Linked DNA regions of Homo sapiens. The protein of the gene in region 5 purifies or fractionates together with the protein of the main gene of each other region. This does not show direct contact. Each region holds a gene or a part of one and is shown on either strand. Other genes may lie near its edges.

Region 1 (5,257 bases), on a different chromosome or scaffold from region 5:
TGGCTCTGACCACCATCCTCCCACCCGGAAGAAACAAGCCATCCCTCAGTGTCACGTGACAGCAGGCAGCTCGGCAGTTACAGTGGGCCTGGCAACCCTTGGTCTTCCATCAAAAAAAAAAAAAATTAAGACAACCAAGGGAAAGTTTCCTTTTTTGAAGGCAGAGGAGGAGGATGGAAAAGGTAGGGAGGGAGTAGGGGGACAGGAAAGAAAAATCAATCTACAATCCAGTGGTGCATCCCAAATCTGTCACTCTGTACAGGTGGTTCCACGCTCCCATTCCAAAGTGCACGGGCCTCTCGGTCTGCCCAGGTTGAGTGGGCCTGTCATAGGAACAGCAGCTTGGCCACTGCCCACCCAGGTCACTGAGCTTCAGTTGGAAGTGGCAGCAATGGGCTTATCCAGTTCAAGGTCAATGCTGGAGCTTGTGGGATGTAGGCTGCTATAGCAAGACTTGCATACTCGACTGGGTTCAAAGAGCTGCTGGCTGGGAACTGGAACCTTCTGGTTACAACAACTGGAGCAGAATACGTTCCCACAATTCCTTGAGATGAGAAGAAACAGAACAATGTTAGTTTTGGCCAGCAGGTATGCGGAGGGAAACCAACTTCAAAAGACAAACTTTGCCGTGTGTAATTTGCATGTGCTGGAGCTCCTTGAGATCAAACCCTTTCATCTCTCTAGCCCAGGAACAAGCTGGGTAGGGAGGGTGTCCCTACCTAGCAGAGTCACATGTCATTTTCACTTTGGGGCCAAGGATTCTTGGCTGCCTCACCACTGACTCAAAAGAATGCTGCTCAGGTATACAAAAGAATGCTGCTCAAGAGAGATCTGTAAGAATACATGGTCCTAACAATGGGTTAGTCCTGATCCAGGAAAACCCAGTGGCCACACCCACCTAGGCAATGCCCTCTGTGTAGCTTGTGATCACAGAGGCCAGGCTCCTCAAACGAGAGAAACAACTACCCAGCCTCACTGGGGAGTAAGGAGCCTTGCCCAACGGCCACTTCTCCAGAGGATCAAAGGCAGCAACATGGCAGATAGACTGCTGCCATTTTGGACTGCTCTGCTGGCAGCATGCAAAGCCAGGGACAAGTAGCCTGTGATGCATGCTCAGAGGGTGAAAGAGGAGAGGTGGGAGGACAAGAACACAGGATGAACACACGTGCACACACACCCCCTTATTAGATAGGTGTCAGTCAATTATGGCTCACTCCCCGACCCATGCATCTCCAGGGAAAACCAGAGTTCTACCAGAAGGCCAGAATGCACTCAGGCCCCAGGCATCCCTCTCCTCCTCCCCTGAAAGCTGGGTTCTGAGGCATCTGTGCAGCACAGTTCTGCACCCCCAGATGGATGCCCATCAGAGCCAACAGGAAAGGGAATTGGCAAAGAATGAGTTTCTGCCCACCTTACAACTCTACTTTTGCTGGGCCCTGAGGTACAAATCAATCCTAATGAGCCTAAGAACAAGAAGCTCCAAGGAGCCTGACACAGCCCACCAAAGACTGGGGGAGGGCAGCTTCTTAGCCTTCTAACTTTTCATTTATGCTGTTCGGAATGCAAACCCACTGCTGGATTAAGGATCACTTAGGCACAGGAGGAGAGAAGACTAAGACCAGTTGGGAACAAAAGAATACCACAAAAGGAAAAGGTGGGACATGGGGCAATGGAAAGACAGAAAAGAAAAACACAAAATTCATCTTCTAGAATGCTGTACTTCGTAACTAGTTCTAAAAAGCGTGAGTCAGCAAAAACCTGTAGTTACACAGAAAAATTTCTGAACATCTACACTTCTTTAACATTCCTGCTGGAGTTCAGCTCAAAAGCCTGACATGAATTTGATGCTTTTCTTTCTTTTCTTTACTTTTTCGAGATGGGAGTTTTGCTCTTATTGCCCAGGCTGGAGTGCAATGGTGCGATCTTGGCTCACTGCAACCTCCGCCTCCCAGGTTCAAGAGATTCTCTTCTCCTGCCTCAGCCTCCCAAGGAGCTGGGATTACAGGCGTGCACCACCATGCCCAGCTAATTTTGTATTTTTAGTAAAGATGGAGTTACACAATGTTGGTCGGGCTGGTCTTGAACTCCTGACCTCAGGTGATCTGCCATCCTCGGCCTCCCAAAGTGCTAGGATTATAGGCGTAAGCCACCGCACCTGGCTGATGCTTTTCTATCTGACTTCTTTCAGAGGACCCTGAAAGACACTAAGTGGAATCTTTCCTTGAAGTCTTCCAAGCTAAAACAATTCTCTGGAAAGATCACCTCTGTTCAGTCCTGGTCTCTTAAAAAAAAAAAAAAAAGGGAAAAAAGAAGCAGTGATGCTGTTTGACCTGGAAATTACTAGCATTATTCTGGCATCTCAATGAATCACTGACCCAAAATAAATAGCTCTGAAAACCCAACTGGTTCCCCTACAAGACCAGAAGACAAGAAGCACTACTTCTCGTCACAAGCAAGACGGCCTGGCTGACCTCTGTGATCAGGAGGGGAGCACATGGCTGCAGCCTGACCCACCCTCGATGGCCTCTCCTCAGCTGCTTTGAATCCCCTCAAGCCCACCTATCTGCCTGTGCACCCAAGGCCCCAGGCTTCACCCTAGTAAGTGCAGAGAGGGGGAAATGATAAGAGTTAGTGTGGAGAAGTTATTGTAGATGTGCAGACATCACAGGCAGGTTGTTGCAAATGCTCACCACGTTTGATCAACACGGTCAGTGTCCCTGCAAGGAGGGGAGAAAGAGCTCAGAAGAGAAGCCAACCAAAGATATCTGGGCTTGGGGTGCAGGGTGGGGAGATACATGTCCTAGAAGCATCATTACTAGGCAAAGAGACTGTTCCATTTTCAATCCACCCACTCGTGTGGGTGAGCTATGGCATGATTCAGATAAACTTCCTCTTCTAAGAACACTGAACATCCACCAGACAGTCAACACCCTAGCTGGGGCAAAGGGTCCCTAGTAAACTCACTACCCTAACCCAGAAGGAAAAAGAAGTCAGGAACCTTAATGATTGGAAGACTGTCCTCAGCTGTCTCTACTACTTCCCAAGCTACAGCTGCTCACCAATGGCACAAGGGAAAACAAGTGTGGGGTCAGGGAGCAGGAAAGGAATAGGAAAATAGTTCCCTCCCCATCGCAGGAAAACTGGTTTTGCTCATAGTAGCCATGTTGAATGGGAAGAAATGTTATGCTGAGAATAAGAAATGGTGGTTTCAGTGGTGGCTGTTGTTTCACCAATCTGGGAAACAACAAAATGCTACCATTTGCACATTTCAGAATTTAACAGTGATTACTCTGAATTTGAACAAAGATGCCAAATGCAGTTTTGCAAACACCAATTTCAGAGGCACAGGAAGATGAGACCATGGCTCTGCCTCAGACAGAACACTGAGATACCCACAACCCTCTACTCTGCAGGCTCTGTGGGCCGACCCTCAACCTCCACACACAGCCCACCCTACCACAGCCCCTCAATGGTACCTGCAGTGGTGCTTCCTGCTGGCAAGCCAGAAGGCACTGTCGCACGCATAGCAGTGGGCGGCCAGGTGGTCAGGAAGCCAACGGGTCATCTGCAAAACAGATGGGACCAGGTTACTGACAGGAGATGGGCCATCCAGCTGGAGCCAGCAGAGCCATGCTGGGGGCAGCAAGAGTCACAAGGACCACATCAGCTCCAGTGGCACCAGCCCAGCAGATCTGATGTCAACAGTACAAGAAAGGCGTCCAAATCGTTTCCCTGGAGGGGACTCCAATCTCCCCTGAGATAAAGTAGCAGGCAGCAGCACCCTGGGTCACTGTGAGAGCTGGCAAGGCTCCAGTTCATAGAGGCAATGAAGAGGGAGGGCCAGCTTGCTGAGTCTCCCTGGCTCAGAAATCCTAGGCTTCATGTGGGTTCCCAGGAGCTAAGGTGCCAGAGGCTCAGGGCTAGCTGTGCTGGGAGGTGCTTCCTTGGCCAGGGGTATGGGGTGGGAATGGGGGTGGAGAAGAACCACAAAACAGTTAAATTGATGGCACTCAGAGCAGGGGCTGAGCCTGTACCTCTGTGTCCTGTTTATCCACCTGCTCCCAGCTGGCTTCAGAGAAAATCTCTGTGCTGCAGCGAGACAAACAGTTCTGATCCAGATTGCTTTCCGAGTCGGGGATTGAAGTCTGTTGGCAAACAAACACAGCTGAACAGAATGAACCTGGTCTCCTCCCAAAAGAAGAAAAGGCCTGGTGAAGAAGGGAGAACTGAGGACTCTGGGTGGGGCCGAGTGCTAGGACTGCCGAATCTGCAGATGCATCAGCCATCAAGAACTGGGGTGAAGAAGTGCAGTGTGGGCCTGGGCTCAGCTGGGAGAGGGATACACAGGTTGTGTGCAGTGACTCTGGAGTAGAAAAACAGGCCCTCAGGGTTCCAGAAAGTGAGTGAGAGGGAAGTGACCAAAATGGAATGAGAATTCTGTATGTCAGCTGCTCCAGTGGGCCTGTCAATCCAACCCTGCCTGCCACTAAGTTAAAGCTGAGTGCTTTCGGGATGCCCTCCTTTTCTTAGAAGGACTCTCTGGGAACATGAGAAACTATCATTAGCATGAAGGAAAAGCCAAGTCACTCTGAACTGAAAGTCACTGGATGTGCCCGCCTTTAATGTACGCTGACCACTTGAGAGCCAGGCTCACACTTGTACTTGAGCTGCCTGAGTCAAGTCCACCCAGAGAGGAAAGCACCTCCTTGAGAACCTCCCCCTCTGGAACCCCCATTTCCAGCCACAAACCCCCATCAGAGCTAACTCCTCAACAGTGCTAGAAACCAGTCCCTTCTCTCCATTTCTACTGGCAGCATCTGCCACAGGATGGGTATAAATATTTGTTTAAAAAGAACTGAACCTTCAAAGCCATAGCCCACGTCTGGAAGGACTAATACTTTGTAGTTACTAAGGCAGAACAGGCACTAAAATCTGACAGGAATAACTTGGCATTGCCCTACAGATGTCATTCTGCCCATGGGTTCAAGCCCTTCTGAAGACTTATGATCCTGTGTCTGAGAGATCTGATCAACCATGCAGTGCATGCTAAGTCTCTTCCTCTCCAACGGCCTCAACAGGACATCTGCAGAAAGTAAGCGAAGCAGAAAACAGGCAGGCTGCCATCGCTGTCGTGGAGGCTCATCTCCAGCCTCTCTTAACAGGGCTACTCTGGACCTTTCCAATCCTTTAACAACCTGTACCAATCACCATGCACTGGGCACAAAGGGCACCCAGCCTCAGCATGCCGTCTCCTTGG
Region 2 (5,257 bases), on a different chromosome or scaffold from region 5:
AACTCCTGGGCTCAAGCAATCTGCGCACCTTGGCCTCCCAAAGTGCTGGGATTACAGGCATGAGCCACTGCACCCAGCCTGAACTACACACATTCTTATCTGCTTAGATGTTGACTTAGAATTGTTCTCTAGTTGGCCGGGTCTGGTAATCCCAGCACTTTGGGAGGCCGAGGCGGGTAGATTACGAGGTCAAGAGATCGAGACCATCCTGGCCAACATGGTGAAACCCCGTCTCTACTAAAAATACAAAAAACTAGCCAGGTGTGGTGGTGGGCACCTGTAGTCCCAGATACTCGGGAGGCTGAGACAGAAGAATCACTTGAACCCGGGAGGCGGAGGTTGCAGTGAGCCAAGATTGCGCCACTGCACTCCAACCGGTGACAGAGCGAGATTCTGTCTCAAAAAAAAAAAAAAAAAAAAAAAAGAATTGCTCTCTCTAGTTGTTCTGTGTCTTATCTTACAGCTTAAAATTATCTTGAAAGTAGAACCAATATCTTCTATTTCTTTGCTGTAGCCCACAAAACCTAGTACAGTAATACGCAACTTGTAGGTATTAAAGAAACATTTGTTGAATTGATAAATCAGATACTAAGTTAATGAAATGATTATTAAATGGGTCACAGAGCTTATTAAAAATTTGATTAAAAGTTATGGCCCCTCTCCCAGGAAAAGTAAACCTATGAACCTGTAGCCAAATTCTGCATAGTTTGGGGAAGGAAAAAAAAAATCACTGAAATCCTGAAACCTATCACGGTCCCCTCACAATGACTTAGTTCAAAAGACCCTAAAACCAATAATTTGGGATGCTGGGCTTTTTGTTTTCCTTTATAATATTCAACCAATAACATATGTTATATTTTAACTTTAAAAACTTTCAGCCAGGCTGGGCATGGTGGCTCACACCTGTAATTCCAGTGTTTTGGGAGGCCAAGGCAGGAAGATCACTCGACGCCAGGAATTTAAGACTAACCTGGGCAACAGACCCGTCTCTACAAAAAATAAAAATTGGCACATGCCTAATGAGCTAATTAGCTACCTGGGAGGCTGAAACAGAAGGATTACCTGAGGTCAGGAGTTTGAGGTTACTATAATTGTGCCACTGCACCCAGCCTGAGTGACAGAACAAGACCCTGTCTCTAAAAAACAAAAAAGCTCTCAGCCAATAAACAAATATCAAAATTTGAGATATATATACACATATATACACGTATATATGTATATATGTGTGTATATATATAGTATACATATATACACACATATATGTATATGTCTATGTATATACGTATACATGTATATATGTATACGGATATATATACATATATGTGTATATATATATACGCGTATATATGTATATATATCCTTTGAGCACAGTATTTTCATTCAAAAATACTAGCACAAATGCAAAAATATGCATACAAAGTAACCCTACTGGCCAGGCGCAGGAGCTCACACCTGTAATCCCAACACTTTGGGAGGCCGAGATGGTGGATAACTTGAGGTCAGGAGTTCAAGACCAGTGTGACCAACATGGTAAAACCCCGTCTCTACTACAAATACAAAAATTAGCTGGGCATGGTGGCGCATGCCTGTAATCCCAGCTACTCGAGAGGCTGGGGCAGGAGAATCACCTGAACCCGGGAGGCAGAGGTTGCAGTGAGCTGAGATTGTGCCACTGCAGTCCAGCCTGGGCAACAGAGCGAAACTCTGTCAAAAACAAAAAAACAAAACAAAAAAAAAACACACAAAGTAACCCTACTAAACTATGTACTTAAAAATGGTGTAGATGGTAAATAGCATGTGTATTTTACAATTTTTTTTTTTTTTTTTTGAGATGGAGTCTCACTCTATTGCCCAGGCTGGAGTGCGTGGCGTGATCTTGGCTTACTGCAATCTCCACCCCCCCAGATTCAAGCGATTCTTATGCCTCAGCCTCCTGAGTAGATGGGATTACAGGTGCCTGCCACCATGCCCGGCTAATTTTTGTATTTTTAGTAGAGACAGGGTTTCACCATGTTGGCCAGGCTGGCCTTGAACTCCTGACCTCAAGTGATCCACCTGCCTCGGCCTCCCAAAGTGCTGGGATTACAGGCATGAGCCACCGTGCCCAGCCTGTAATTTACAAATTTTTAAAAAGCTACACATATAAGGATGTAAAGCACTCCCTGTAATGATAAAAAAAAAAAAAATGGAAATTACCTAAATGATGAGTAGGAATCTGGTTATATAAATTGTGGACTACTCTGAAGCCAATAAAAACAAGAAAGGGAATTTAGATGTGCTGTCATGAGAAGACAACCTAATACAAAGCGGGAAAAACAATTTGCAGAATATGCAAAAAAGTAAAAAGCGTATGTAAAAATATTCTGATTTTGTTTATAAAAAATGTTTCCATATGAAAGCGTGAGTGTGGATTTACCTATGTAGAGATAAACATTTGGAAAGACACGTACCAAATGTTAGCAGTGGACACCTGTGGGGACAAGGATCATAAGGGAAGATTTTCATTTTCTACTTTTATATTGACTATTTTTTTAAAACAAGAAATAGGTATTACTCTCATAAATTAACCAACATCATCTCACTTCTCCCCAAACATTGAGCCAGAAGATACCTAATTTTATGTCTCCCTTTTAAATTCTGGCCTTTTTCTGAGGGAGTAATATAAGGCCATCCTCCTGCTGGGAACCCATTTCCCTGAGAGTCAGATGTTTCTGGAAGCTAATGCTGGACACAACAAAGGTTGCTACTAATATAGCAAGCTCCCCATGCCCTGTACCAGTGAACAAAAATCAAGACCATTCCCACAAACCTTCCTAAAACAGTCCTTTCTGTTTTGTTCTCTCCCCTGCTTGGGTATATCATACAGAGTGATAGCAGCTCCTCCAGGAAAGAAAGTATCCAACCTTATCTTCAGAGGACCTTGAAAACACACAGAGTGCACTCCAGGCTAGCTACAAGTCTTGGCCAAGTTTTTCCTGCAAATGACTCAAGAAGTTGCTTTTAAATACCTCAGAAAGAGGCCGGGCACGGTGGCTCACGCCTGTAATCCCATCACTTTGGGAGGCCGAGGCAGGTGGATCATTTGAGGTCAGGAGTTTGAGACCAGCCTGGCCAACATGGTGAAACCCCATCTCTACTAAAAATACAAAAAATTGGCTGGGCGTGGTGGTCGGTGCCTGTAATCCAAGCTACTCGGGAGGCTGGGGCAGGAGAATCAGTTGAACCCGGGAAGTGGAGGTTGCAGTGAGCCAAGATTGCACCACTGGCACTCCACCCTGGGCGACAAAGTGAGATTCCGTCTCAAAAAAAAGAAAGAAAGAGAACATTTAGATGAGATGGGAAACAGTTACTGCCTTCCTAGTGGAGAGAGGAGAAAGGAAGAAGGGCTTTTCTTACCTGTCCAGAGAGCGGCCAGAGAACTCCTGGCTCTGGGCCACTGGGGAAAGGTAAAGATCCATGTTTTCTTCCCCAAGTGTGCATGGAGATGATGCTGGCAGATAAACAGCTGTCCAGAGGTGCAGGGCCCGGACATGACAAACAGGATGCAGGACCTAGGGAAGCAGCCCAATACTAGTGCTTTGTCAAGAGTTCCTTGTCCTTTTTCTTTCCCTAAGCCCTTGACTCTACATTTTCCCTACTGACTCAGCTGCTTCTCCCTATAGGTTTCTAAATAGCACCTACAGGAAAAGGGCTCAGACTCACCATGTCTGAGCTGGGTGTGTAGAGGAAGTTATGAAAGTTTTTATTGCCAGCTCGAAGGAGCGCCCACACAGAGCAGGTCCGCTTGTAGATGTTGCGCTTCTCTCGCTCACAGGGGTTGTTGGCCAGGAAGGTGCCGTAGAGGCAGGAGTATGTGTGTTGCACCAGTTTTACCTAGAAAGCAGAGAGAGCTTGCACCTGGGGGCCTCGGGCTGTCATTCCCCCCATCCCTGTTGTCACAGGCCTTAGGACTTACCAGGAATGCTTCATTAAATTCAAACAGGCAGGGGAACTGCTTAAGCAACTGATGAACAGAATCAAGCCACTGGAGGAACACAGGGCATTGTTCGTTTTGGTCCTCCACATTCTCTTGGTGGCCACAGCGATCTCCAAACTTGTGCCCAAAATCCAGCCAGTCAGACTCCACTAACACTTGGAAGCCCTGCAAAAAAAGAAACTGTTCAAACATAGGGCCTCTCTGGAAATGCTGATGTGCTACTCCCCTGGGAACTGCCCAAAGCAGGAAGCTGGCAGCTTCAAAGAAAAATAGGACTGGACCTAGAAGAGGACTCAAAGCCACCAATTTTCCAAGCCTTTGGGAGTTGGAAAAAAAAAGAAAAAAAGAGCCACCAATGTCCTCTACTGAAAGATCCCCAGGACAGATCCAGAGGGCTCAACACCTTCCCTCCTGCCACATTCCTTCTGGTTTTCCCACCGAATTCCTCTCAATACCTCCAACGTCCTGTAATATGGGTCCAGTAATATTTTGGCCAGGGCTACGATCTGCGGTGTGCGGTCCCAGCCATCTGAGCAGTGTACCAGCACAGGCCGGCCTTCCCGGTCTACTGTATTAGCCACCAGCACAGCTGCTTTTAGCATCACCGACAAGTGCTGCAGCCATTTGGTACTCTCCAGTGCCGACAACCAGCTACACAAAAGCAGACATCAAGTCGGTCACAAAGGGTGCTGAGGCCACAGCAGTCTCTCCACCATCCACAGCCAGCCCCACCCAACAAAGTCCCCATTGAGAACTGAAACCAAGAGGTACAACCCAGGGCCTTTTGGACAAGAGGTATCTAGCAGGAAGGTAGGGAAGACAGGACCTACAGCAGATAAAAGCATCTGAAGCTCAAAAGAGGAACTGAGAAGCATCACATGCACACTCAGCCATTTCCTCTCCCCAGTTCTCTGTGTTCTTTGAGTAGAACAACTGATCCAAACGAAAGGAATCCATGTCCTGTGACCACGCCAAAGTGTTGGCTGAGAAGTGGAAGGGTTCTTGGAACTAGCCCACGGCACCCAACTCCACCCAGGCCCTCAGGTCTCCTGCTCTCCAAACTTCTCATCTCCCCATCTAATCTTCCAAGAATAAGAGGTACTGGGTAAGGAATGAGACTGGAAGGAATCCAAGTAGGGAACACCTACTTGCTAGGATCCGGCATCTGGCTACACACAGCCCGGAGGTACTGAAAGCTGTTCCGGATGGCATGGATGTTGGCCATTCCCATGAACACGACCTCACAGTTGGGATAGTACTCTGTAGACATGACAGGAGAGT
Region 3 (2,639 bases), on a different chromosome or scaffold from region 5:
TGTAGTTGTGGGCACTGAGGTATTTGAAGTGTCCAAAGCAGACGTGGCAGAGACAGATGACGATGGTGATGACCAGGACCACAAATGTGAACATAGACGTGGGAGCTAGGAACCCTGGTGTTGGGGGGCAAAGAATGGGGTTGCTATCTCCTGTGGGCCTCCCCACCCCAGCTTCTGATACCCTCTGAATGCAGTCCTCACTCTCCCAGGTGCTACAGACTGGCCCCAGCCTCTCCCAGGCCCCTTGCCTGCCACCCCCAGCCATGCGGCTTCTCCTGTGGCCTGCTCTGGCTGGAATCCACTCTGCTCGCCACCCCCCGTTCCCTGGGTAGGGATCCCTCACCCGTGCGCATGGTGGAAAAGAAGAGCAGCCAGAAGAGGCAGAGGATGGGCGCGGCCACCACCTGGTTCACAGCCCCCGAGTGGATCTTCTTGTCCAGCTTGGCCGGCAGGTAGGCGTAGTAGAGATTGTACCTGTCTACCAGGTGCTTCAGCAGCATGTACATGAGCCCTAAGGGAAGCCACATGGGCCCTGACCTCGGAACCAGTGCTGCCGAACCTTTTGTGTGTCTGTCACAGGTTGTTCTGGTCCTGAGAGTGCTGAAGGGTTGGCCCCCTCCTCCTGCCCGGGCCCCAGGACGGGATAGTGCCCCGTGCCCCAGCGTGATCACAGAACTTCAGCTTCCTCCGCTACAACCCCTCATTCTACTCTCCTCATCAGGAATTCTACTATTGGAAATCTAGTCATTTGAATCAACAAGCATCTTCTTAAAACCCGTATCATTTTTCTCTAACCCTGTCCCTAAACAGATACGTATAAATTAAGGGACAAGTTCTATTTCCCCAGAGGCTGAGGGATAGGGAGTTTCTAATGAGGACAAGGAAGTTAGTTTGGGAACTTGGAGCCTTCAATAACCAGGGAGGGTTGGTTAAGGAGTTAGGATGTTATTAGGGAGGAAAGTAGAGGCTACCAGTGGGGGTGATGGTTAAAGAGAAACTTTGCTAAACTTCAAAAAGGAAGAGAGACCTGGCCAAGTCACATAGCTCAGATACAGCAGACTATCTCCATGAGTGGCAAGGACCCATCCCACCCTGGAATCCAAGTCTTTCCTGAGTTTACAGGGTGGTGTAAAAGTGTGCACATGGATGCCTGTGTGGGAGTGTGTGTGTGAACATGTCAGCACGTATGTGATCTGTGTCCAAGCACATCCCGCTGAGGGAAGGCACAGGTGTGGGTAAGTATGGCCATGTTGGTGTGACTTTGCCCTGGGGCCCACATGCCAGCTGGGTCTGGCCTGAGCTGATGGCTCTCCCCCTCCTCCCCACAGGCCAGGCCCCAGACTGAGCCAGGGACCGGGCGGGAGCCCCGAGGGGCCGGTCTCCCAGCCGGGCCCTGTCCACTCGGGGTGGCCTGCATTCCTAGAGTGGAGAGGGTGAAGTCCTGGGTCCCCCCGAGCAGGGCCCAGGTCCCGGCGCGGCGGTGCCTACCGAAGGGCACGATGATGGGGCAGGTGATACTGTAGGTCATGACCACCGTGAAGACGCACATCATCCAGGCGTAGGCTGCGCCAAACTGGAACTCGTAGGCCTGATGCTGGGGGGGAGACGGGCAGGAGGATGGCTCAGGGAGGCAGGGACTGACCAGAGGGGCAGGGAAGGAGGGAGGGGGAAGGGAGCCAGGACCTCTGGGGCCGGAAAAGAAGCCATGGGGAACAGGACCTAATGTCTAGGGTAGGGTAGGGCAGAGCAGATGGAGAGAGGGGCTATGGCCGAGAGGAGGGTCAGGGCGGTTGCAGTGATGGGGCACGGAGAGGGGCCTTCAAGGGTCGGGGCCTGGCAGGTAGGGGGCAAGAGTTGGGTGGACTTGAGAGTGGGATGCCCAGAGCCCTCTTATTAAGACAGAGGGACCCTAGCGCTAGGGACCCAGATCTCCCCAACTCCCATCATAGAATGCTACTGTCAGAACTGGCAGGGGCCTTCAGGGTTACCTATGTCCACCCATGGCAGAATACGAAGGCCCCAGATATGGGAAGGGGATGGCCCGGATCCACCGTGAGTCAACTGTACTCCCCAAGTCTCAGCCCTCCTGTGCCCCTCAACCCTAGCGCGATGGCTGCTGTTTCTTGTTGGGCCACCAGGGGGCGCTGTGCGGGCCGCTGCTGCCCCAGGCGGCCGTACCCGCTTCACGTTGCGCCTCTCGGCGGCCGAGCGCGCCAGGCAGAGCCGGATCATGTACATGAGCAGGCCTGGGATGCGCAGCAGGTCCATGGCGTTGCCGATAAAGGCTGAGGCAATGACGTAGTTCACGAAGAAGGCGCCGTTGTCGGGCAGGAACACACACCTGCGGGCACCAGGTGCTCCAGCACTGCACCCTTGGGGTGACCCGGTGGCCGCCCGCCCACTGCCAGAACTACAGCACCCAACACCTCCACCACCAACATGCTTCTTCCATGTGGACACCCCCAGCTTAGCGCCCCAAGCACCTGTGCCCTGTTCCCCCCAGAGACATACAGAGTGGCAACAGACAGCTCCAAGAACTTGTGCCCCATAAAGACCCATGGAGAGAGTGCTCAAGACCACCTAAGGCTGCTAGAATGTTCAGGGGAGAACTGTCCAGGACCCCCAAAGACAACCCAATG
Region 4 (5,257 bases), on a different chromosome or scaffold from region 5:
AGGAGCCTGCAGAAATTCCTAAGTGGGGAGGATGGATTCTTTCGGCCACATGGTGATGTTTTGTGCAGGCACACGTGCCGACGAAATGAGGCTACTATGGCCCAGGGGCTGGCCCCAGCTCTTTCGGGAAGCCACCCGGATAGTTTAATTTCTTACTACCTTCCTAAATAGGAACCACTGCATTCAAAACAAGTATACCACCATTTAAAAACAAGTATGCCACCGGGACGATGTGGGATGCGTCCGTTCCATAGGACCTTGAGTGTGTTTCCGAGTTAAAAATACGAGGAAGCAGCAGTATTTAATTTGACGGGTCACCTGACTTTTCTCAGAGCAACCGCTGTTATTTTTTCAACTGCGTCTGAGAAAAACGGGGGACCGGGTAATTAGGATCTGAAGTGGGCTGGGATTCAGACTCGGGGGGCTTAGCTTAGCAATGCCTCTTCTCACCCCCGCCTGTGCTTGGGAGAGGGCAGGCAGCTCGGGAGGAAGGGGCTGGGTGTGCTTGAACCCGTGCCTTGTTTTATACTTACTAGCTGTTTTTCCATCAGGTTCCAGGCCAGAATCACACTGCACAGTTTTAACCCAAATACACAGCTAAGGACATGCTGCTTCCCTAGGTGACTGACTGCAAAGAAAACGCCTGCCTGCAACATACCTTCAGACCCATTTCTTCGTTTCGGTACTTCCTGAAATAGTCTGTTCAGGCTCTGGCCTGGATTCTCTGTTGAAAAACAAGTGTGGTAAGAACAAAACAATCAGGGGAATGGTGGTGTTGACGATATGGGCTGTGTGACATGAAATCTGAGCCGCCTGTCACTAAAGAAAGGGCTCAGGGCTGCCTGTGCAACTCGGGAGTTTCTAGAATCTTCTGAGAGGCCCTTCCCTGGCTGACCGGCCCGCAGAGGCCGTGGCTCTGCTGCAAAAGGAGATGGGGGAAATCTAAGTAGCGACCTACGGCATTGAGGCCAGGGAGGTCCATGGGAGGGAGGACTGCCTTGAAGGAGGATCACCCGCCAGCCCCCAGAACAAAGCTCGCATTAATCATCCAAAGACATTCAATTTCGGTTAACATCCTCATAAAACACTGCATTTTCTTGGTGCAAATTGATGCTGTTCAAAACATCTCCCTGCTCTGTTTGAGTCTAAATTTCAGGGTGTTTCAAACATGTCTGATGAAATGACCTCTCAATAGCTCTGTTGATGTGGCACATTGATCCCCTGGTCTTAAACAGAAAAGGAACTTTCTTTTTTGTTTTTTTATTTGAGGCAGGTTCTCACTCTGTTGCCCAGACTGGAGTGCAGTGGCTCAATCATGGCTCACTGCAGCCTCCACCTCCTGGGCTCAAGCCATCCTCCTGCCTTAGCCTCTCAAGTAGCTGGGACCACAGGTACACGCCACCACGCCCAGCTAACCTTTTGATTTTTTTGTAGATCAAAAGATTACAAAATATATGTTGCCCAGGCTGGTCTTGAACTCCTGGACTCAAGCGATCCATCCACCTCAGCCTCCCAAACTGCTGGAATTATAGGCGTGAGCTACTGTGCCCGGCTGGGATTTTTTGAAATTATGAATGTGACTGACATTTTATCTTTTTACGGAGGGTGGGGTAGAAAGGGTGCTTAAATAAAACTTTTGTGTATTTTACTCAAGCCAGGCCTGTTTTACTCATAATGCTAAACAAATCACTAATGGACCGTGAACAATGTAGGGAAGGTGGCCATGGGACACGCCCTCTTCTGCGGGGTGGGAAGAGGGGAGGTGTCATCTGTGATGTGTTCTCCCTACAGAACCAGCTTTGCATGAGGATCGAGCCCAGTCAACGTTGCTGCTATGGGGCTGGAGGGGACTTAAGGGCTCCTCCCAAAAGTGAGACCAGCACCCAAGGCCAATTGGACCCGCGGCCACTAAGCATACGGAGACGCTATACATCATGTAATGCAATTCCCTCTGATACGATCTCTAGTATTGAAATACTATAGGGTTTCCTAAGTATGGAGTGCTGAGTGCGTTTCAAAGGCCAGATCTCCCAAATCTAACAGCCTTAACTCATGCCGGGCCACCCTTGAGCTCTGGACGTGGCAGAAGCAAAGAGAACTTTACCTGATGTGATGCACAAATGTTTCATCACGCACACAGACACACGCACGCATGCACACACACATGTGCAACTCTGTGACGGGCTCGCACGCTGGCGCCACCCAACGCCAGTCTCTCACCTCTTTGTCTGCCTTGGATGCTACGGAGGGCCAGGATGTTCTGCTCATCGGAGAGGAACTGTTTCATCTTGTGAAATGGCTCCTTGCCACGAACAGTCAGTTTATTCCATGGCTTGGGCCGGGCCAGAATCTCGCTCACGGACCCTTGAGACAGTCCCAACACATAATGTCCGAAAATACGTTGTCCGATATTGTGCTTAATCAGCTGCTCTTTGACCTGCCGGGCGATTTCTGCAGTGTCCATCTCCTCGCCCTCGGAGACGCTCCCAGCACTTTCTGACTGGCTGGGGGATGGGGCCATGCCATTGACATCTGGGCTTTGTTGTAATGGACTTTGGGAAGATATGGAGTTTGTGCTGTATGGACCTGTTGAAAAAATCATGCTTGTGCTTCCGGCTTCCTGCATAGCCTTGGAGTAGAAGGACTGCATTAGCTGCCGCTGGAGAAGAGAGTTTAGTGCAAATTTTCCTGTAGAAGCCAGGGGTAGGCTGGGGCTTGCCAGGGATGAGCTGAAAAAGTCTTGACTTAACCCCGCTGGTGAGAACTGGTGTGTACCATTAGTATTGGAAGCCTGCTCCCCCGGGTTGCGGGGCAACTGAGAAGGAGGGGGGGCCGGCAAAGATCCCGGGCGCCGACTTTCAGGCTGGTCTTTCCCTTTCCTCCTGGCTGACCCTACAAGGAAGGGCAAACAGAATGCATTATGGGGGATTCCAAAGGGGGAAAAAAAAACCAAGACCAAAATGCAAAAGTTTGCCCCCGCAAAAGGGAAAACAAAAAAAAGTGCAGGTTTTTTTTACAAGGGCCAATGAGGTGGGTTGGTTTGTTTTCCGATTAAATTTGTAAGTCAGCCAAACGAGGCTTCCCAAAACAAGCAACATGCATTCATGTTTGCGCCTTTCTTGTACGTTGCAGCCTGGAGAGTCCCCTTGACATAGACTCAAACTCCTAGCGTGACAAGGAGCTGGTGACACACACAGGGAAGAGTTGACGGGTCGCGGGCCTCTTACTGGGCCCGCTGGCCCCGGCCGGAGGAGCAGCAAACACTGACATTTTAGGACCAATGGATTCGCTCGCACCTCTTGCTCTGAGGCGATGCACCGTACCGAGCCCCCTCGATGTGGAGGCGCGCGCCCGTTTTGAGAATGCAATACCATTAGAGCCCGAGACACCTGTACGCGTTTTACCAGCTGCCCAAACCAGAAGCACAGTCAAGTGACGCCACCATTTGGGGGATGAGCCAAGAAAGGCTAAGGATGGGGGACGCGTCCCCAGGGGAAACCTGACCAAGGAAGAAAAACCTCTACTGGACCCGGCAGGCCCGGGGCTGTCCCTGAAAACACCACCAGAGCGAGGCTGGGTTCACACTGCCCCTGGCCTCTGTGCAGCACAACCAGACACAGATCAGAAAGGCCGACGTCCTCCGAGCTGTCCCTCCCGGGGATTCCAGCCGCACTGCCCCTAACTGACCTCCGCAGAGCCTGTGCGGCTGGCCCGTCTCGACATCCAGCTTTAAGCAGGGCGGGGAAGGGAAGGGAGGAGCGGTGAGGAGGAGGGCACCCAACACGCGTTAGTCAAAGGTTCTCGTCAACCGGCGCTTCTCTGGCCATGCATCTGTCCAGACTCACGATTCACCTTCCTCGTCCTCGACCGACCCCTGGAAGCGAACCAACCACCGCACACGCGCGAAGCCCGGCCAACCTACCGCTCAGGTCGCTGTTGGAGATGCGCAGCGCGGCGTTCTCGGACTGCAGCGAGCGGTTCTTCTCCAGCAACAGCACCTCCAGGGGCTTGGCCGCATCCTAGAAGGGGCAGAGCGGGGGTCTCACTGCGGGGCCGGCCACTCACCCGCTCCCGGGGCCACCAGGCCTGGAGCCCTGCCTCCCTCCATCTGTCCGCGTTCCCACCCAGCTCTCGATCTGATTAGGAAGTGGGCTGCGGACAGCTGATTTCCCCCCAAGTCGTTTAACACACGTGGAAAACAAGTTCCCTTTAGAAAGAATGGATTCTAGTTGAAGTCATTTTCCTTCTTAGACTTCCACAGCTCCTAAAAAAATTAATTATTCTCTCATCTGTTCTCAAACTCAAGCGACCTGAGCCCGTGCCTCATTTGGCCATAAGACTGGCTGCCAAGCCACAAACGTCTGTCCGAACGTTACTGTAAAGGGAACTTTTCTTTTTTTTTTTTTTTTGCCAGCCACAAAGATGTTGGCTGTCTTCTGGGCATCAGGAGTCAGATTCCACTTAGGATGTCAATTTTATTTGATTTGATTTTTTAATTTTTTGAGATGGAGTCTCACTCTGTCGCCCAGGCTGGAGTGCAGTGGCATGATCTTGGCTCACTGTACCCTCTGGCTCCTGGGTTCAAGTGATTCTCCTTCCTCAGCCTCCCAAGTAGCTGGGATTACAGACGTGCGCCACCACGCTCAGCTAATTTTTTATATTTTTGGCAGAGATAGGGTTTCACCATATTGGCCAGGCTGGTCTCAAATGCCTGACCTCAAGTGATCCACCTACCTCAGCCTCCCAAAGTGCTGGGATTACAGGAGTGAGCCACCATGCTTGGTCTGGGATGTCAATTTTAATTGGCCACCAGATGACCCTGGGCCACAGTCATCCTTCCCTTGTACCTTCTCTACTGAGGCAGCATGTAACTAAAGTTCCTAAACCAATCCATTTTTGGCTGCTCTTTAATGCAATTAAAAAAAAAATAGTCAGTCTCAATCTGTTGTCCAGGCTGGAGTGCAGTGGTGCGATCATAGCTCACTATAGCCTTGAACTACTGGGCTCAAGCGATCTTCCTGCCTCAGCCTCCCAAGTAGCTGGGACCACGGGTATATGTCACAGTACTTGGCTATTTTTTTTTTTTTTAATAGCAACATGGTCTTGCTATATTGCCCAGGCTGGTCTCAAATTCCTGGCCTCAAAGCGATCCTCCTGTCTTGGCCTCCCAAAGTGCTGGGATTACAGGCATGAGCTACTGAGCCTGGCCTTCTTAAACACAATCTGAAATTGTTTTTTATTTATGTTCTTAGTACCT
Region 5 (5,257 bases):
AGAGAGAGAGAGAGAATATATATGTATAATTTTTTTATTTTTTGAAGCAGAGCCTTACTGTCGCCCAAGCTGGAACACAATGGTGCGATCTCGGCTCACTGCAACCTCTGCCTCCCAGGCTCCAGTCATCCTCCAACCTCAGCCATCTGAGTAGCTAAGACCATGCCCAGCTAATTTTTGTACTTTTAGCAGAGATGAGGTTTCACCATGTTGCCCAGGCTGGTCTCGAACTCCTGGCCTCAAGTGATCCTCCTGCCTTGGCCTCCGAAAGTGCTGGGATGACAGGCATGAACCCACATGTCCAGCTGAGAATGTACATTTTTAAAAACTATTACTGGGGTCTTGACATCTTAACTCTGTCACTAAAAATGTGGGAGACATTGTGAAAGTTACTTACCATGTTTAAGCCTCACTTTCTTCATGCATCAAATGGGAATAAATAATAATTATCTCTATCTCAAAGTTTTTATGGATAAAGTGAGATAATTCATATAATTTTATTGAAACAAAATATTTTCTTTTATATCTGCTATTTACTTTACAATTACAGTAAATGGACTAGTTATCTCCTCAACTTATGTAGACATGAAGTTATCTAAAAGTTCTTACCAAAGTTGTAAGTCTCAAGAATTCACAAACCAGGGTGATTTGTATTATATCAAAAAGTCTGTCACTTTCGAATAAACCTTAATATTTTCTACCAATATTTTGTGAACTTGCCTTGACAATCAGGCTTTTTCCCCTTTAATTTCTATTACTATGTTACAATTTAAATGTGGTTAATCCTGTAACAATAGCCTTAAATTTTGTTCACAGCTTATAATTTTGTGAGGCCTATTAAGGGATTTTCCAGAGGGGATACTTGTGCCACTTACAACTATACATATATACACATATATATTACTGAAAGACTTCCCTCACGTATCTGGGAAGCCCCTTCAGTCTTAGACGTCAGCAGACTCACTGTGCAATGTAGTCAGGAATGGCAACAGTACCGGTTGCCTCGAGTTCTGAACTGTGTGCTCTGCTCTACTGCTGCCTTGCTGAATGACCAGATCCCTTCCATCCCTCCATCTCTCTGTGCCTGAGTCTCCTCATCTGCAACATTGGAATAATTATATGCATCACCTCCTTACTGAATAGGAGTATAAGATAAAGTGTTTAAAAGTGCTATGAGATGTTGGGGTGGCACAATATTTATCAAACTTATAAGATTTCTGTTTGTTTTTAAACTTATAAAAAGGTATTTCTTAAACTTTCTAAAGTTTTATATAAAAATCTCAATTAAATTATCTAGTTTATTTAAATTAATTATCTGGAAACTCGAGGATTAGAAAGAGTTATTTTCTCTGCATCATTTATCTCTTTCAGTCCTTCTTCCAAGCAATATGTTGCCGAAAATGTAAACTTAAGGATGAGGAATTGGAATCCCATGGCATATTTATGTGATTTTAAATCTATTTTTGTCATCTTTATCTTAAACTTTTGAAAAAACAATTCTTTCAAAATATAAACTTGAAAGTTGAACCATCTTTGATTAGGATTTTAGTTTTTATCATTGTTTTCATATACATTATATTGATTATTCTTAATTTTTGTATAACTGCATATATCCTTTTGTATTCTATATTATTCATATAGTCTAGGTTTTTGTTTTCTATGTCAGTGCTTAAGACTGGGAAATAAGTAAAATGTGCCATAATTCATTTTCTATACAACTAAAAAACTAAGTTACTGACAATATTCTCTAACTGGCCTGGAAAAAGAACAATACTCTATCAAACGTAATTTCTTTTTCTGACAATCAGAATTAAAATAAACAGAAAACGAAGCAGAAACTTTCCATAGGTAATAGATAAGTGTTTCATAGGCTAAAGTACAATATGGAGACCAAAAGGCTGAGAAATACTTTCCGAAGGCAAAGTAAAAGAACAAAATGACATTCAAATTCTCCAGTCTTTTTTTTTTTTTTTTCTGAGACAGTCTCACTCTGTCACCCAGGCTGGAGTGCAGTGGTGCGATCTCAGCTCACTGCAACCACTACCTCCTGGGTTCAAGCAATTCTCCTCCCTCAGCCTCCCGAGTAGCTGGGATTACAGGCATGCACCACCATGCCTGGCTAATTTTTGTATTTTTAGTACAGATGGGGTTTCATCATGTTGGCCAGGCTGGTCTCAAACTCCTGACCTCATGATACATCCACCTCGGCCTCCCAAAGTGCTGAGATTACAGGCGTGAGCTACCACACTCGGCCTACATACTAATTTTTAAGGTATTGCAGCGAAAGTGTCTAAGTTCTTATACAATTTGGCTCATTACTTAACCATTTATTTTAAATTTGACTAAGCTTTACTTCAATAATTAATTTTATATAACTCACCACTTTTGCATCAATTGCAACCTGAGCAAAGCCTCTGCGATGACCCCATACGATGTTATAAGTTTCATCACTAATTAGGGCTTCTCGAACTCCACCTGGTGAGATAGCTAACAAGTGGCCACTCCTCAGAATTTCAACACATTTTTCTCTTGGTCCATGTAGAGCACAAAACACATCCAGTAATAAACTAAACCCTGTAAGAAACATGAGTATGAAGTTACAACATAAGTATTTCTTGTTTAATTCTTCAAAAGAAAAATCTTCACAAACTACATAGTGTACTATTTATACTTAAATCAGTAAACTTTTTTACTTGTTAAAATCAACAAAAACTCTAAAGGTTAACTTAAGCTTGATATTAAGCTTCTCTGGCTCAAATTCTTAAGTAAAACTCACAACAATCTTGACAAACAGGTATTCTTCTCCCCACTTTACAAATGAGAAAACTTGGGCTTACAGAATAATAGCTTGCTCAAAGTCACACATCTAAGAAGTGGCAGGGCAGAGATTCCAGAGATAGGATTCTAATGGGATTCAGAAATGATATCCCATCAGCAATCAGAAATCTAATCTTCCATTAACCCTATAAAAAAGAGAATCACTCAGGAGAATGTGAATCAAACTACGCTTAGCTCTTCCAAAACTGGCAAGACCATGATCAAATCTATTTAAATTAAAAGTTAGATAATGCTAATTCTATAATTAAATTTTTAAAATAGCAAACATCATTAAGAGATTTTAATAAAGTGAGAGTGCTTGACTCAAGAGCAGCTAATTCCAAGTCTTAATATTATACAGCTTTTCAAATTACAACTGTTTATGGATGAAAGAAATAATCCTGTTAGTAATTAAATATTTTAATCAAATCCCATACTGGAACTTCTGAGGACTGATGTTAGTATACATTATTCCCTGAGAATGGGAAATATAGCGATGCATTTGATGTTAAAAACTACGCAGACTGGTCAGGCACGGTGGCTCACGCCTGTAATACCAGCACTTTGGGAGAAAGAGGCAGGTGGATCACTTGCGGTCAGGAGTTCAAGACCAGCCTGGCCAATGTGGTGAAACCCTGCCTCTACTAAAAATACAAAAATCAGCCTGGCATGGTGGCACGTGCCTGTAATCCAGCTACTCAGGAGGCTGGGGCAGGAGAATGGCTTCAACTCAGGAGGGGGAGGTTGCAGTGAGCCAAAATTGTGTCACTGCACTGCAGCCTGGGCAACAGAGCAAGACTCTGTCTCAAAGAAAAAAAACAAAAAACACTATGCAGACCAACCAAACTTCTCATTAAAGATCTGAGGCAAGTTTATAAATAGCATTAAGATTAAAATAATTGTCAGACCGGGTGTGGTGGTTCACACCTGTAATCCCAGCACTTTGGGAAGATGAGCGGGCAGACCACCTGAGGTCAGGAGTTTGAGACCAGCCTGGCCAACATGGCAAAACCCCATCTCTACTAAAAATACAAAAATTAGCCGGGCATGGTGGCGCACGCTTGTAATCCCAGCTACTCAGGAGGCTGAGGCAGGGAGAATTGCTTTAACCCGTGAGGCGGAGGTTGCAGTGAGCAAAGATCAAGCCACTGCACTCCAACCTGGGCAACAGAGCAAGACTGTCTCAAAAAAAGTAAAAGAAAAGAAAATAATTGTCACCCCACATTATATTAAATGTTCACTGATTCAACTAGATGCATTCTCATAATGAATGAATGAACAGGGAAGGATTCATACATAATAGGATAAAATATAGGATCCCTTTTTTTTTTTTTTTTTTTTGGAAACAGGGCCTTGCTCTGTCACCCAGGCTGGAATGCAGGGGCACAATAGTAGCTCACTACGGCCTTGCTCTACTGGGCTCAAGCGATCCTCTCACTCAGCCTCCCAAGTAGCTGAGACTCCAGGCACTGTGCCACCATGCCTGGCTGATTTTTTTATTTTTATTTTTAGCAGAAACGAGGTCTTGCTATGTTGCCCAGGGTGGTTTCAATCTTCTGAGCTCCAGCAATCCTACTGCCTTAGCCTCACCAAGTGCTGGAATTACAGGTGTGAGCCATGGCACCCACCCTAAAATCTCTCTTGTGCTGAGAATTATAATGATTTTATTCCTTCAGAAAGCAAAGAAAGACTTAAGGTCTTAGTGTCTTAAGGTCTTTAATGATCTTTATGATCATTAAAAAGATCATAAAGAGGAAAATTTTTTGAAAAAGGCAAATGCTAAAAATATTCACATTTTATTATTGCTAAAAACGAAAAAAGTAGAAGCAACCTAATGCTCCATTAGAGAAAAACAGTTAAGTAAATGTTCTAGTCATACACTAAACGTTTTTCTTATAAAACATGGTAAAAATATTAATGCTAACATTAAATCTTAAAAAAAAACCCCACAAAACTGTTTGCCTATGTTACTGTAAGTAAAAAAATGAAGTAAAATAAATCAAAATGAAAACATTATGTTAAGATGGTAAGATTATAATGATGTTCTGTTTTTTAGTTTCCAAATCTACTATAGTGATCATGTTAGTTTTTAACAGAAAACATAGCCATAAACAATATGTTTATACACAAATGGCTTTTTAGTGACACATGGATACCCAAAGCATTAACTGTTTATAGGCACTGAAGTAGATCATTACTTAATTCACTGTTTGGTTGTGTTTGTCTGGTTGATGTGTCAGCTTTTGCTTTTATACCAGAGAACATACTAACAACTCTCTTGGCTTGTTTCTGGTGATTCAGTGACAGAAGAAAATAAGATTTAATCTCAATGAGTTTACTCAAGAATGATTTTTGAAAAACTCTAAACCATTTGGTTAATTAATCTTTTTTTAAAAAAAATATAAGGTCGGCTAGACGCAGTGCCTCACGCCTGCAATCT
Region 6 (5,257 bases), on a different chromosome or scaffold from region 5:
GGGGCACTGAAGGCCTGGAGAAGACTGGGGCAAAACTTGGTCAGTCGCAGGGCCCAGATACAAGATCCCAAGATGGGAGATGTGGGGCTGCCTCTCTGGGCTGTGAAATGGGTCACCTTCAGCAGAGGGAAGCTGGAGATAAGACTGGAGTCAAGCTCCTCGACGTAGTAGAGAAGTTCCACCAGATGAATGTCAGCCCGGCTCAGCTTGTTGCCAACAAGGTAGTCTTGTCCATGGCTCTTTAAGACCTGGAGAATGGGAGGAATCAGATCAGGAACACATGCACACCCAGGCTAGGACCCCTGCTTCTTTCGGAGCCTCTCCACCCTGACTTTCCCCACCTCTGTTGCCTTACTGCATGGGTGCAGAAATCCAGAGCTTTCTCCACATTATCTGAATGAATGAGAGAGTAAGAACTGTAACTCTACTCACTCCTCAGTTGTAGCTCAGGCTCCCATTTTCTCTTCTCATTCTACATCACTGTGGCATCTACACCACCCACGCAGCTTGCTTCTTCCACATGGGCCAGGGGCTTAGCACCTGCCTCCATGTGTTCTGTCTGCCCCAGGCCCTACAGCGTGGAGCCCTCACATTCAGGATGTGGCTCTACATTCTGCTCTCTCCCTCTCCAATCTCCCTTGGGCAGTGACTCCACCTTCATGACAACACTCTTCCCCAGGAGGAGACTATTTCAGAGTCCTCATTTCTCTTTGTCTGCTCTCCTCATTCCCTGCTCTATCTCCCTGGGATCTGTAGGAAACCTGGGTGAACCTGAATTCATCTTTCTTACAGCATTGACTCTCACTCCCAACTGGCACTATGTTATAATCTGCAAGCTGAAGCGTTTACGGGTGAACTGCACTGATGTCTGCAACTTACTCTAAAATCCATTTTAAAAAATCTTCCTCTGCATCCCACAATCACTCTCCTTTTAAAAAATACCCATCCCTGAAACGCTACAGTATTCTCTGGTTGGGCAATTGGTCTCCTATCTTCCTGCATATGGTGCCAGAATATTTTCTGATGGATCGCTTTCATCATGCCCCTGTTCAGTCAAAGTCCATGGGGTTCCATAGACTCAACAGCAACCTCTAGTGTGGTCCAGAGCCCACATTCTACTTATGAACATGAAATCTTGTTGAACAGGTAATTCCATGTTGGGGTCCAGTAAATTAAAATTTTACTGGAAAAGTATAGCTTGGGTATAAATGATACAATTGTTTCTCCAAGTCTATTTTCATAAAATGCCTTGAGAGTCAGAGTGCTGCATTGGTGTTCAGGAAGTCTCACTGAAAGTGAAGATCAGTGACCCAGGAATGCCCAGCCACTATTTTTCTATTGGCCTCTAAACTCAGTTCCCCAAAACACTGAACTGCTTCACTTACTTTTTCAAAGGCAGGGAAGTAGCGATTTTTTATTTTCTCTTTGATCAAGGCAAGCTTGGCATCTTTTTCCTCAGGTGGACATACGGGCAGAAGGAGGATCATTTCACCCAAATCTGCTATACCTTCTATATACATATCAATCCTGAAAGACAGAAACAACCAAATGGTCAAATACCTTTTGCCTTAGATTTTATAGGTTTATAAAAACCTAAGGGAGTAGAGTATCAGGTGATGGCAAAATAATTCACCTCCAGTGGGTGCCTTTTATAGTCTAGTCATTATGCTCTGAGTTTTACAGGTATATTAACATTTATCTCTTAACCTATCAAGGTAGATAGATCTCTAAATTTTGTTACACACATGACCTAATACAGGTAAAAAGAACGTCGGTGGTCACAGTCATGAGAGAAATTGGCAGAATCACTGCCAGTACCCACTGATGCTGTGCCAAGATTTATCATCTCCATTGTGGTTTGTTCTGTGCATGAACTTAGTGTGAGTCAAATGGCCAAAGACCTGCTTCCTAAGTAATCCTAAGAGAGTCCCTGGCACAGCCATGTCAGCCATATTCCTTGTCCTCTCTCATCATTTTACAGCTCCCAGGGCTGCTTCTATGCCCCATATTTGCAGTTCTTTCAATTACACCCATGAAACACATTTCCACAGCCCTTTCCATGTGCTGTTGCGCAACTCTAGCCATGTGTGCCTTTCCTGAGACCCCACCTAAGAATCCCCTTCCCTGGTGAAATTCTCTATACAGTTACAACCAGTGCAAACTTTTCTTCTTTTGTGTCAAACTGGAGTTTCACAATACTTTTTAAAACAAGAACTTTATTGATGCATATTCACATACTATAATTGCCACCAGGTATATTATACTATTGAGTGGTTTTTAGTGCACTCACAGAAATCTGTAAAAATAACCACAGTCTAATTGCAGAATTATTTTTGTCGCCCTGATAAGGACACCTGTACCATTAGCAGTATTCTTTTTTCTCCAAGCCCCACTCCTTTAGCTCCAGGCAAGCACTAATCTACTTTCTACCTCTATGGATTTGACTATCTGGACATTTCATACAAAAAGAATCCTATAATATGTGGCCTTCTGTGTCTTGTTTCTTTTATGTAACATGTCTTATGGCTTAACTGTCTTATAGCATGCATTAGTACTTCATTCCTTTTCATGACCAAATATCTTTCCATTGCATGGCTAAGGCACATTTTTCTCCTTCATTTATTGATTGATGGATATTTGAGTTGTTTCCACTTTTTGAATTCTATGAATATTGTTATTCGCATTATTTATTTATGTAAAATATATAGTGTGGATGTATTTTCGATTATTTGGGGATATACCTGTTAGAGGAACTGCTGGGTCATTGGTAATACTATATTAAAGTTTTTGAGGAGCTGCCAGCAGTTTCATTCAGGATTTATTTGGAATCATGCAGTCTCATCACAACAGCAAGGAGACCCCTTGGTTTTGCTGGTATTGAATCAATCTGGCTGTTTTGTGCTTCTATCCATGTGTCAAGGTAACCCCAGCATCCTTGGTGCCAGCCTCTACTAGCCCTGCTCAAGTATTCCAGTTGATATACTTGGTTGGTAATTTAGGTTCCCGGTCATCATTCTTGGAATTACTGGGACCTTAGCTTTGGCGTCTTTGCAACTTTCCCTCCCCAGTCCTTCATCTACAGACTCTCACATATTCTATGCCTGTCCTAAACTGTTGGCCAGAGTCGAGCCTCTGAAGTCCTGAGCACCTGGAATCATGATTCCCCATCCTCCTCAGTTCATGGTTCATCCGTGTTTGGAAATTACCGTGAGGTGCTGGATCCATGGACTGCATCCTCTTCTAGAATCACCCTTGCCTGAACCCTCCCCATGTTCACTGTTCCCTCATCTCCATGGGACTCTGCAATACTGGACCTCAGCGTACATGCCCAAGGCCCAGCCTGCTGCTGGTCATGATGCCCTGCCATCGTCCCACCCACTCAAGGAAGGACCTAAATCACTCTGTGTTCTCTGTGGATGGAAGAACAGAAAATATACCGTACAGGGCTCTCTCCTTTATGTCTTTCCCATAGAGGTTGTATTTGCTGGCAATGTAGTTGAGAATGGCTCTGGTCTGCACCAGCTTCATCCCATCAATCTCAACCATTGGCACTTGCTGGAACATCAAATATCCATCTTTAGAAGGAAGAAAAAAAAGGAGAGTGAAGTGTCTATGAAACCCACCCTTTTGGGATGAACAAATGGTTGTGGAAATGACTAAATTTGTAAAATGGCAAAGAAATTACTGCCTGGTAAGATTTCACTTGAAACAAAAACTATATATATATATATATATATATATATATATATATGTGTGTGTGTGTGTGTGTGTGTGTGTGTGTGTGTGTGTGTATATATATATATATTTTTTTTTTTTTTTTTTTTGGCAGAGTATCATTCTGTCACCCAGGCTGGAGTGGAGTGGCATGATCTTGGCTCACTGTAACTTCTGCCTCCCAGGTTCAAGTGACTCTCCTACCTCAGCCTCCCAATAGCTGGGATTACAGCCATGCACCAGTGCACATGGCTAATTTTTGTATTTTTACAAGCAATAGGGTCTCACCATGTTGGCCAAACTGGTCTCAAATTCCTGAACTGAAATGATCTACCCACCTCAGCCTCCCAAACTGGGATTACAGGCATGAGCCACTGCACCCAGTCCAAACAACATTTTTAAAAAGCTTCCTGTAGTTCTTCTTTTTCTTAAGAAGTTTCCTTTTACTTTTTATCCATTTATTTCATATATGTTTTTATTGCCCCTCCAGATACATAGTGGGACTCTTGTATTTTTTGTGTTGATTTATCTTCATGGATATTTTAGGAAGAGGTTGGGACAAGTTACAATAGGACTGGCAACAAGATGCCATTTAAAACAGGAAGTTCCCAGAGTAAGTCTCATGGTGTTGTGACATTTAAGGCAGGTTCTGAGAGGTTTTTATGTAAGGGTCCCTTTCTGTGCTCTTCAAAGTCTGCGATATTGCTACAGTGTTACCCAGTCCCACTCCCCCCATGAAAGAAAAAACTCAAGACAGTGGCCACATCTATTCCTCCTCCTTTTGTCTAATGCATGTTCTTGCATGTGCTTGGATGGGGAGGGCTGTATGGGATCCTGTGCTGATGACCACCACTCATTCATGGTGCCCCAAGCATGAAAACAAAGAAAGGGCTTTCTCAGCGGTGGGAGATTGTTCCTCTAGCAAATACTCTGAGAGGTCTGGTCCTTTTAACCTGGAGAGAGTTGCCAGACTTGCTCAAGGAGCCACATCCCTTCCATTTTAACCACTTTCTCCCTCTGCACCATGTACAAATACCATGCCCCACACCCATAGACATTGCCGGCTGCGCAAACCTCCCCGTGTACCTTCTACTAGATACCCTCATCAGAGGAACTTAGAGATTGATCTTACCATTTCTTAACTTGTCCAAATCTTCTGCAGATTTTATAAATTTCTCTTCAAACTGGAAGCAGAAACAGTAAATACGTTCTTGTTAGTTCATTCTATTATAGACTGTGGCCTTGAATGGCCCCATCTGGTGCATCATTTGGAGAATACAAGATTTCTGAGTTTGGCAGGGTACACAGAGGGGGCTGGTCATGGCCATTTGGAAATTTAGACCTAATTCATTGAGAAAAGTGCATGGGTCACAGCACATAGCTGCTAAATCTTTTAGTTCACTTCAACTCCACCCTGATATGAATGTCTATGATTAGGTCATATTTTGAGGGGGACATCACTGGAGAAAAGGCACTGAGCAGTTCTTCTAGTTATGGTGTTGTCATATCTTAGGAAAGCCTGTGTCTCCAAGTGAGATCAGAC

The links.
Region 1: the proteins of TMEM68 (region 5) and MTMR3 purify together in Homo sapiens (affinity purification with mass spectrometry; one large-scale study listed by BioGRID and IntAct). This does not show direct contact.
Region 2: the proteins of TMEM68 (region 5) and MTMR4 purify together in Homo sapiens (affinity purification with mass spectrometry; one large-scale study listed by BioGRID and IntAct). This does not show direct contact.
Region 3: the proteins of TMEM68 (region 5) and TMEM63B purify together in Homo sapiens (affinity purification with mass spectrometry; one large-scale study listed by BioGRID and IntAct). This does not show direct contact.
Region 4: the proteins of TMEM68 (region 5) and CUX1 purify together in Homo sapiens (affinity purification with mass spectrometry; one large-scale study listed by BioGRID and IntAct). This does not show direct contact.
Region 6: the proteins of TMEM68 (region 5) and GSTA1 purify together in Homo sapiens (affinity purification with mass spectrometry; one large-scale study listed by BioGRID and IntAct). This does not show direct contact.

What each region holds. Positions count from the first base shown.
Region 1 is NC_000022.11:30,020,917-30,026,173, reverse strand, and holds part of MTMR3 (phosphatidylinositol-3,5-bisphosphate 3-phosphatase MTMR3), read right to left. Parts: intron 4,146-5,257; coding exon 4,035-4,145; intron 3,566-4,034; coding exon 3,477-3,565; intron 2,718-3,476; coding exon of another isoform or gene 2,691-2,717; intron 545-2,690; coding exon 373-544; 3' UTR 1-372. UniProt on the Homo sapiens protein: Lipid phosphatase that specifically dephosphorylates the D-3 position of phosphatidylinositol 3-phosphate and phosphatidylinositol 3,5-bisphosphate, generating phosphatidylinositol and phosphatidylinositol 5-phosphate.
Region 2 is NC_000017.11:58,500,348-58,505,604, forward strand, and holds part of MTMR4 (phosphatidylinositol-3,5-bisphosphate 3-phosphatase MTMR4), read right to left. Parts: intron 5,237-5,257; coding exon 5,125-5,236; intron 4,628-5,124; coding exon 4,432-4,627; intron 4,142-4,431; coding exon 3,956-4,141; intron 3,874-3,955; coding exon 3,703-3,873; intron 3,552-3,702; coding exon 3,397-3,551; intron 1-3,396. UniProt on the Homo sapiens protein: Lipid phosphatase that specifically dephosphorylates the D-3 position of phosphatidylinositol 3-phosphate and phosphatidylinositol 3,5-bisphosphate, generating phosphatidylinositol and phosphatidylinositol 5-phosphate.
Region 3 is NC_000006.12:44,151,548-44,154,186, reverse strand, and holds part of TMEM63B (mechanosensitive cation channel TMEM63B), read right to left. Parts: intron 2,342-2,639; coding exon 2,179-2,341; intron 1,595-2,178; coding exon 1,489-1,594; intron 512-1,488; coding exon 344-511; exon of another isoform or gene 210-343; intron 115-209; coding exon 1-114. UniProt on the Homo sapiens protein: Mechanosensitive cation channel with low conductance and high activation threshold. Osmosensitive cation channel preferentially activated by hypotonic stress.
Region 4 is NC_000007.14:102,194,269-102,199,525, reverse strand, and holds part of CUX1 (Homeobox protein cut-like 1), read right to left. Parts: intron 4,020-5,257; coding exon 3,923-4,019; intron 2,893-3,922; coding exon 2,221-2,892; intron 725-2,220; coding exon 659-724; intron 1-658. UniProt on the Homo sapiens protein: May be involved in intra-Golgi retrograde transport.
Region 5 is NC_000008.11:55,748,584-55,753,840, forward strand, and holds part of TMEM68 (DGAT1/2-independent enzyme synthesizing storage lipids), read right to left. Parts: intron 2,575-5,257; coding exon 2,381-2,574; intron 1-2,380. UniProt on the Homo sapiens protein: Catalytic subunit of the alternative triglyceride biosynthesis pathway, which mediates formation of triacylglycerol from diacylglycerol and membrane phospholipids.
Region 6 is NC_000006.12:52,792,740-52,797,996, forward strand, and holds part of GSTA1 (glutathione S-transferase A1), read right to left. Parts: intron 4,899-5,257; coding exon 4,847-4,898; intron 3,576-4,846; coding exon 3,443-3,575; intron 1,528-3,442; coding exon 1,386-1,527; intron 249-1,385; coding exon 117-248; coding exon of another isoform or gene 1-116. UniProt on the Homo sapiens protein: Glutathione S-transferase that catalyzes the nucleophilic attack of the sulfur atom of glutathione on the electrophilic groups of a wide range of exogenous and endogenous compounds.